Linked DNA regions of Homo sapiens: region 2 is linked to region 1. Evidence: fine-mapped expression QTL. A gene starts in region 1. The other region holds a variant in brackets. All regions are shown on one strand. Distances are from middle to middle.

What was found.
Region 2: its variant is fine-mapped to the expression of SNX18 in atrial appendage (GTEx, PIP 0.98).

Annotation. Positions count from the first base shown.
Region 1 is chr5:54,515,069-54,519,456 of GRCh38, reverse strand. SNX18 (sorting nexin 18) reads right to left here and starts at 1,698. Exons shown (of 2, transcript NM_001102575.2): 1 at 1-1,698. The coding sequence starts at 1,504. RefSeq lists an enhancer at 1-790 and silencers at 1,263-1,822, 1,703-1,944.
Region 2 is chr5:54,644,612-54,648,999 of GRCh38, reverse strand. It overlaps a transcript of SNX18 not described here. Among named protein-coding and RNA genes, the nearest start is that of LINC02998, 97 kb to the left of the region's middle. The variant G/A (reference allele first, on the strand shown) is at 1,986.

The sequences.
Region 1 (4,388 bases):
CGTCATAGGCATCTCCGGTGAAGGCGATAGCCTGGTTCAGGCCCACCGAGAAGGCCTGCTGGTCCAGCTCAAAGGCCTGGCTGAGGCCGCGGAAGGACTGGCCCACCTTCTGATACTCCTTTTTGAAGCCGGTCACCTGCTTGCGCGCGAACTCGTTGGCCGTGTGGTTGAGCTGCAGCGCGCTGTCGTCCATCTTCTTGGTGAAGCACTTGAAGCCGTCGATCTTGCTCTCCACCTCCTGCAGGTCAAGGGCAGCGGCGGGGGGCGTGCTAAGGGTCAGGAAGAAGTTGGCGCCCACCATCTCGTCCTTCTCGGCCTTCCTCTTGCCCTGCTTCCAGGCTTTCTCGTCGGTGCTGCTGGGGCACGTCAGGAAGTGCTGGAAGACGTCGCACTGCGCCAGCACTGGGTGGCTGGCCATGTGGTTCATCCACCAGATCAGGCCCTTCCTGCGCTTAGAGATGAAGTCCTCCTCGAAGCGGCCGGTGGCCTGCTTCTCGGGCAGGTGGGGCACGGAGATGACCGGGAACTTCTCCGCCAGGCGCGCGTACAGCCAGTCGAAGTGCTTGTAGCGCCGATGCACCGGCACCTGCGTGTGCGTGGGCACCAGCTTGTAGGAGATGTAGCTCTTCATGCCCTTGAACTTGGTCTGCTTGGTGGGGTCGTCGATGGTGCACTGGAACGGGTAGGGGTTCTCCTGCCACTCGGGGCCATAGGGCCCCAGCACCACGCACAGCTTGTCCCCGTCCTTCACGAAGCCTGACGCCTCCCCCAGCACGAAGGCCTCCCCGCCGGACTTGACGAAGGTGGAGAAGCGATTGAGGTTGCGGCTCACGGTGGCCGAGCTCTTGGGCCCCGACGGGTGGTGCTGCGGGGGGACCGAGCCGCCGCGGGAACCCAGGGACAGGTCGGAGCGCGTGGACAGGCGGTAGCGGCCGGCTGCGCCCACACCCGCCGAAGACGAGCCGTCGAGGTCCGGGTATGCTCCGCTGCCCAGAGCGCCCGGCTCGTCCGCCACCGTGGAGCTGTCGTCCCACTCGTCGTCCCAGTCATCATCGCTGCCTTGGCTGGCCTGGTAGCCGCCGTAGAGCTGCTGAGGCGACGGCTGCAGGGCGCCCCCGCCGTACGGGAAGCCCGCGCCGGGCGGCTGGAAGGTGCTCGGAGGCGGCGCCTGCTGTGGCTGCAGCAGCGCCTGGAAGGCGTCAGGCGGCGGCTTGAAGGAGGCGGGGGGCGCGACAGGCAGGGGCTCGAAGCCCCCGGGGGGCACATTGGCGTAGCGGGCCGGGGCGCCCGGGCCGCCGTCTCCCGCCGGGCCAGGCTCGGGGGCGCGGATCACCTGCACATAGGAGGCCGGGAAGAGGCCGCGGTCGCCGCGGCTGTTGACCCCCTCGAGCCAGCCCTCGATGTCCTGCTCGCTGCACAGGCTCAGCACCTCGTGCTCTCGCAGCGAGATCTCTCCTGGGTTCTCCGACCTGAAGTCGTACAGCGCCCGGGCGCGCAGCGCCATGGTCCCGGCGCCCCGACTGGCGGTCCCGACTCCCGGCGTCCCGAGCCGAGGCCCACCTGAGGGGCCCGCGGTACTGCTCGAGCCCTGGCGCGCGGACTGGAGCCCCGAAGGCGGCAAACCCACGCTGCCCGGACCAGCCGGTCGCGCCCTCCGCGCGGCTCCGCTCGCAGCGCCTCCACTTCGCAGCGCCGACTGCCGCGCTGGGCCGCCGCAGCCGCCGCCGGTCGGGGGCGGGGCCCGCGGCCTCCCACGTCTCCAGCTGCGCTAATCCACGGCCGAGAGCCCCTTGCCAGGCGAGAGCAAGCGATGGCCGAGCCGCCGAGCCCACCGCCCGCGTCGGCTTTGCGGCGGCCACTGCCCTCTAGTGGCCGGTGCCGCGAAGCCGGGCGCCGTAGTGAGCGCGGCTGAAGGAGGTTTCTACTCCGAAGTGAATTATCTGAGATTTCTTTAGGCTTTTAAGTTAAACATTCTCTAGAAAGTAAGTTAGCATTTGCATGCCTGATAAACGTTCCCACTCTGAGCGCTCAGTGAATGCTCCTAGAATGGCAACCCAGTCATGTAATAAAGCATTTTGCAATGCGAATTAGTGATTGCACTAAGAAAACAGGATGCCTCTGCGGAGGAGCTGTTCACCTACAGAGCAGGCTCCCTTCCCTCTTCTGCTCAAGGAGAGGAGATTGGCAAGAACAAAGTAAGGGCCAGGGAAGGTGCTGTGATTGACAAAATTAGAAGCAAAGGATCATGTAGAGAGGGAGGAGCTGGAGAGTTTCCAGTACAATAAATGCTCACACATTTATTACATGCATGTGTCGCCTATCCTCCCATAGATATATGTAGTGCGGTGAATGAGAGCTCAAACTTCGGAGCCAGGCTTCTGAATTTCAATCTGTGTTCTGACACTACCTAGCTGTATGACCTGGAACAAGGCACTTATATCGTACCTACCTCCGGGGGTTGTTGTGGGGATTCCATCATAAAGTAATCCCTATTTTACAGATGAGGAAAGTGAAACAATATCTGGCAGGGTAAGCAGATTTGAAGGGTTTGTTGCTGCTTTTGCTGCTGTTACTGTTATTTGGGGGAAGCAAAATCCCTGGCCTCTTTCACAAAGGGAATAGGGGTACTAAACTAACAATTGCAGGGTACATGCACCAGGAAGCGTCCCAATGTTCACATTGCCACTCCTAGTAAGAGGTCAGTGACCATCCATCCATCTGTTGTCTCTATGTCTCACTATATTTATATTATTTTTAAGATAAATAGAACAAAAATCACTTCCTGAAATAATCAGCTCCAATCTATCGTTGCCTTGTTTCCTATCTTCCTTTCCTTCAGTGTATAATTTGCCCAAAGCTTTTTCTTCTCTTAATCCCCTCTTATTAAGTCTAGCCTAATTATTCCTTTGAAGACACTTCTAATTGAGGTTCTGCATTCATGTGTCATTAATTTCAGCCTGTCCTCTGACCCTTTTCAAGGAAACCTGGGAAACGGGCCAGAAGAGTGTACAATTATTCTAAGGGCTGTGGTATTGTAAGCATCTTGCACAAAAACACAAACCCACTATACCAGAATCACTCCCACAGTGTTTATCCTAATGCAAAACCTTAATTCAATTCAGTAAGCATATTCTAAATTACATTTTTAGCTGAAAATTCTGGGTTTTGACTATTCTCACAGTAAGCAACAGGGATCATTGAATTTCAATGCCAACATTTCATGTGGTCAGAAACATGAAGTCCACATTAACTAAACCTCTAGAATATGACTCATTTTACTTCTGAAAAGCTAACCTAGAATATGTAAGATAAATAAATTTAGTTTCGCCCCTTCTGTTCGTTTAGTAGTTACTTTTTAGATTAGAGTTAAGTACAGTAACTTTGGGCTTATTTCAGGTGTGAAAATTCCAGGAGTTTAAGGTGATGATTTTTTACAGACTGGTTGAGCTACTCTGTAGAAATGGTGGTTGAGGAATTATTGGGTGTCCAAGGTTGTTTGTAGCACTGGGGCATGGGCGTCTGCAGGTGCTTACTTTGTAGGAGTCCAGTGGGAGGCCTCTGTGCTTGCCGCGCATCAGGCTTCCAGAAGGATGAGGACAGGCTGTCATGATGTTTGGCCCTATGGCCACTAGTGGCAGGAAAACCCCTACCTCTAGAGGGTCTTAGATATGTAGAAAATTGTGCTCCAGTATTAACAACCTATAACTGTTCACTCAGGGAAATAGATACAGTAACACATTTTGTAAAGATTTCTCTAGAAAATGGAGCATATTATTCACAGTTTAGTTTACACAATCATTATAACCACCCATATGCTTCTGTAAAGTTTTTAGGGGACACTAAATGACCCCAAACAATTGCATTTTCTTACTTCCTCCCTTGGCCTGAGAGGCCTTAGATAGCCTGGCCCTTGGCTATCTTTCCAGCCCCCTTTTCCACTGAAAGAAGCCACAGTGGTTGCTTTGCTATTTTTGGGACAAGTCAAGCACGTTTCTTGCTGAAGTTTTTGCCTTCGCTTTTCTCTCTCCCTGGAGCCCTCTTCCCCGGGAGATCCACCATGCCACATCATCGCTTCATTCGGTCAGAACCATGGGGCTTTCCATCCCTCCTTTCTTCTCCTTCCTTGGAGATACCGGAAGACAGAGGGAGCCTGGGTCCCTGAGTCACCGACCCCAATCATACTTTGTGAGAGAAAAATCCTTTGTCCGACTAAGCCACTGAAATTTCAGAGATTGCTGAGGCAGCTGGTACTAATTATGCTAATATAATCTCCCTCCCTCCCTCCCATCCCCTGTCCATCCCACAGTCTCACTTTTCTTTGTAGCAACTATGACCTAAGATAAACACGTCTATACATTAACGGCCTCCCCTATTACAACATAAACCTT
Region 2 (4,388 bases), 130 kb before region 1:
CTGGCAGGCAGCTCCATCTGCTGCCTGGTGCATGACCCGCTGGGTGAAGCCAGCTGGGCTCCCGAGTCTAGCGGGAACTTGGAGAATCTTTATGTCTAGCTAAGGGATTGTGAATACACCAATCAGCACTCTATCTAGCTCAAGGTTTGTAAATGCACCAATCAGCACTCACTTTTGTGTCTGGCTCAGGGATTGTAAATGAACCAATCAGCACCCTGTCAAAACGGACCAATCGGCTCTCTGTAAAACAGACCAATCAGCTCTCTGTAAAGTGGACCAATCAGCAGGATGTGGGTGGGGCCAGATAAGAGACCAAACGCAGGCTGCCCGAGCCAGCAGTGACAACCCGTCACCTTCCATACTGTGGAAGCTTTGTTCTTTCGCTCTGCAATAAATTTTGCTGGTGCTCACTCTTTGGGTCCACATTCCCCTTATGAGCTGTAACACTCACAGGGAAGGTCTGCAGCTTCACTCCTGAAGCCAGCGAGACCATGAACCCACCCGGAGGAATGAACAACTCCAGACTCTCCGACTTAAGAGCTGTAACACTCACCGGGAAGGTCTGCAGCTTCACTCCTGAGCTTGCGAGACCAGGAATCCACCAGAAGGAAGAAACTCTGAACACATCCGAATATCAGAAGGAACAAACTCTGGACACGACGCCTTTAAGAACTGTAACATGTAATCCCAGCACTTTGGGAGGCCAAGGCGGGTGGATCACGAGGTCAGGATATCGAGACCATCCTGGCTAACACGGTAAAACCCTGTCTCTACTAAAAATACAAAAAATTAGCTGGGCACGGTGGCGGGGGCCTGTAATCTCAGCTACTTGGGAGGCTGAGGCAGGAGAATGGCATGAACCCAGGAGGCGGAGCTTGCAGTGAGCCGAGATAGGGCCACTGCAGTCCGGCCTGGTCTAAAGAGCGAGACTCCGTCTTTTTTTTTTTTTTTTTAAAAAAACTGTAATACTCTTCGCGAGGGTCCGTGGTTTCATTTTTGAAGTCAGTGAGACCAAGAACCCACCAATTCCGCACACACCAGCATTCCTTCGGGTTCCTAAATAATAAACTGGGAACCATTCACCCTTGACATCTCCATCTCCTTAATCTTCCAGAATCCGGTCAGTCTCCAAGTTCTGCAGATCCTACTCCTTTCACTTCTCTCAAATCTGTTCTCAACTCTTCATCCCTGTTGCCCGTTGAAGTTTCAAGCCTTCATTTTTCTGGTCTATTGCAATGATCTGCTACTTAGCCTTCCCCTGTTTTCAACCCCTGCTGTTCAATTTGCTGTCATGAAGACAAGTAAATATCACTCATTTTCTGGGAATCTCCTCAATATTGCCCCCACAGCCTTCAGGATGATGACTTTGATTCTTGGATTGGAATACAGGGTTCTCTACGATCATGCCTCTGCCTACCTCCCCTTCCTCTCATGCCCCATTCACTACCAACTTCAACTGCTTATAGTTCCCAAACCATGCCAGGCTATGTAATATCTCTTTGCCTTTGCTCCACAGTCCTCTTTCCAGAATGCTCTGTTCTTTCCTCTCCTCTAGGTGAACACCTCTATACTTTTCAAAACTGAGATCAAGCATCACTCGTTAAAGAAAACTCTCCTGGGTCAGGTGTGGTGGTTCATGCCTATAATTCCAGCACTTTGGGAGGCCAAGGCGGAAAGATTGCTTGATGAGATGAGACAGAGATTTGAATTTATAGCCCAGTAAGGGCAATACGATCTTTTTCCTGCGTTTTAACTGTTGCACTCGGCATAGTACTCGGCATGTATTTGGCACTTAGTAAATGATTATTGAATAAATACAGATGTAAATGATGGTCTAATTCAGAACACTATATTGTTAAATATCCTGAATATATTTATTTAAGGCGTAGTTTGCAAACAAGCCATGTATTAGAACATCAGAATTTCACATGTGACAAAGCACGATCTGGTTCAGTGAGCCAAGTTGGTAATCTCCAGCCGATGAC[G/A]AATTGCTCTTGAGACACTTGTTACAGGCAGCCTCAGGAAGAGGCACAGGCCATTTATACCGCTTCGAGCCGCCAGTCCCAGCTCTCTTGGAGAAAGGCAGCACAGCTGGGAGGGCTCACAACAGGAGGCCTGTTGAAAACAAGTCGTGGTTTCACCCTGTGTTTTGATTTCTGTTCAGGGAAGGGCACTTCCTCTTGCATTTGTAGGAGCCAAGTAACACATTCTGGGTGGAGGGAACTATGGTAGAAAGCCTAGTGTTGGACACATGAAAAGGTGGCAGCATCTTAGAACTGGCTAAACACATATCTTGGCATAAGAACTTGGGTGGCAGGCAACCAAGATTTGGGGAGTGCTTTTCCTGCATCATTTTCTGCTGGGATTGCAATATGAGGGAGGCCTTGTTGATGGGTGTAGTTTGTTATGGTTGGCAATACCTTCTGGTTAGTAGTGGTTGAGTGCTTGCTAACTTGTGAATTCTTCAGAAGAGAGTAGAATATAAAAAGCCTTCAAGCCTCTCCTGTCTCCCCCGCAATGCGGCTAACGCAGGGCAACCGGCAGCAGTGAGCTGTGGATCCAGGCACTGGCTAGAGAAGTTGACAGACCACGAACACGGGGCAAGCTGAGTCTTTCTGTTTCACTTCCGGCATGTTTTTCACCCACAGGGATATTTTGGTCTGTTTCAAAGAAGAGGAAATCAGCCCCTAGCAGAGTGTTTCAGAAAAGCAGCAGAAGAAAAGAAAAAAGATTAAAGCCATATCTCTTGGGGAGAGAGATAAAAATCTGGATTTTGTTTGAAACAATGTTTCCATTTCCAACACCTCAGGTCCATAAAAAGTAGGAGAAAAAAAGTCTTCTTGGGGTTTCAGCATGCACAGTGCATTTATTCTCTCTCTCATTTCTTAATTTGTCAGTTTCTTTCGCCAAGTACCAAATCCAGTAAATGTTCTTTAAATGGAAAGAAAAAAGCAATAATGAATGCCAGAAAAGTTTCCCAACCAGCCGGCCAAACCACAAGTATCCAAAAATGTGATTTCATTTTTAATAATACAGAAAACTGAGGAATATCAAGTAGAAATATAAAGAGAGGAAAAACATTGACTTATTCTAAACACCAATAAAAAGGATTTCCAACTTCAGAATGTTTGTAGAAGACATGAAGAGAAATAGCTAGTCAATGAAGGAATTCAGAACCCGGTGTTCACAAAATTAAGAAGATACTAGTGATCAATGAACTCTAAACACTCATATGGGTTTGCCTTCTCTGAATCCTTTGAAATTCACTCTCTATTCGGTGTCCAAATTTCCTGTATATGTAAAATGGAGCCAAGGAGCCCACATTGTGAACAGAGAAAGTAAAGATCGTGTAGGATGAAGACATTCGTGTTGTAACCTGTGTCTTTTATGCCAACTCTTAGAATTTAAGGAGCAGCTGGGGAGGCCAGCAGGCTGACTTAAGCCCACAAAGGATGGCCTCTGATCCCTGAAACTGGGGGAAGAAGCAAGATAATTCTTAACTACTCAGGTGACATCTCTTCCAAGAAGTTTTCTCTAACTTACTCCCTAGCCCAGGAGGGAAGGCTTAGACCCCTCATCTGTTTTCCCGGAACACCTGGGCATAGCTCTTATTGCATCCAAACGGTTCTTATAATGCAATGCAACACAATACACAGTATCTATATGTCTCCCTTGTTAGACCATGGAGTCTAGAGCAGGGATATCTTTACTTCTCTGGTGCCAGGTATAGTGGCTGGAACATCAATTACCTAATTGACATGAATGCTTTCTTTCTTTGTATCCAAATAACTCAGGGCATTTTAGTTGTTTTATCCTATGGTTATATCATTCTTACCATGTTTTAGTACCGGCAAATAGAATTCATTATTTCCCAGGATATATCAGTTAATAATTTCATAAACAGAGAAACTAACTACATCTGGAGCAGTGCTTCCCAAACTTTACTGTGCATGCAAATCACCTGTGGATCTTGCTACAAAGCCGATCGTCACTCATTTGGCCTGGGAAGGGGCCTGAGAAGCTGCCTTTCTAACAAGCTCCCAAGTGCTGCCAATGCTCTTGGTCCATAAAGTAAGAGTGGCTTGAGCCAGATAGAGTTTAATTTTGTTTCCTGAAAGTTAAGTCCAGAGATTAGCAGTCCAGAGCTTGTTTGGCAGTTCTGCCACATCATCATCAGCCCAGGCTCTTCTATCTTTCTGCTTTACTATCCTAGGTTCTGTTTACCCCAAGGTCTCCCCTTGTCCCAAGATAGCAGCTGCTACTCTAGCCATCACACCTATATTGTAGTCAGTAGAGAGGAGGACACACCAGGGCAAATGGCTGACAGCTGGGTCAGCCCCTTCTAAAGGAGTTGTCAGGAGGAGCCCATCTGACAACTTTCACTCCTA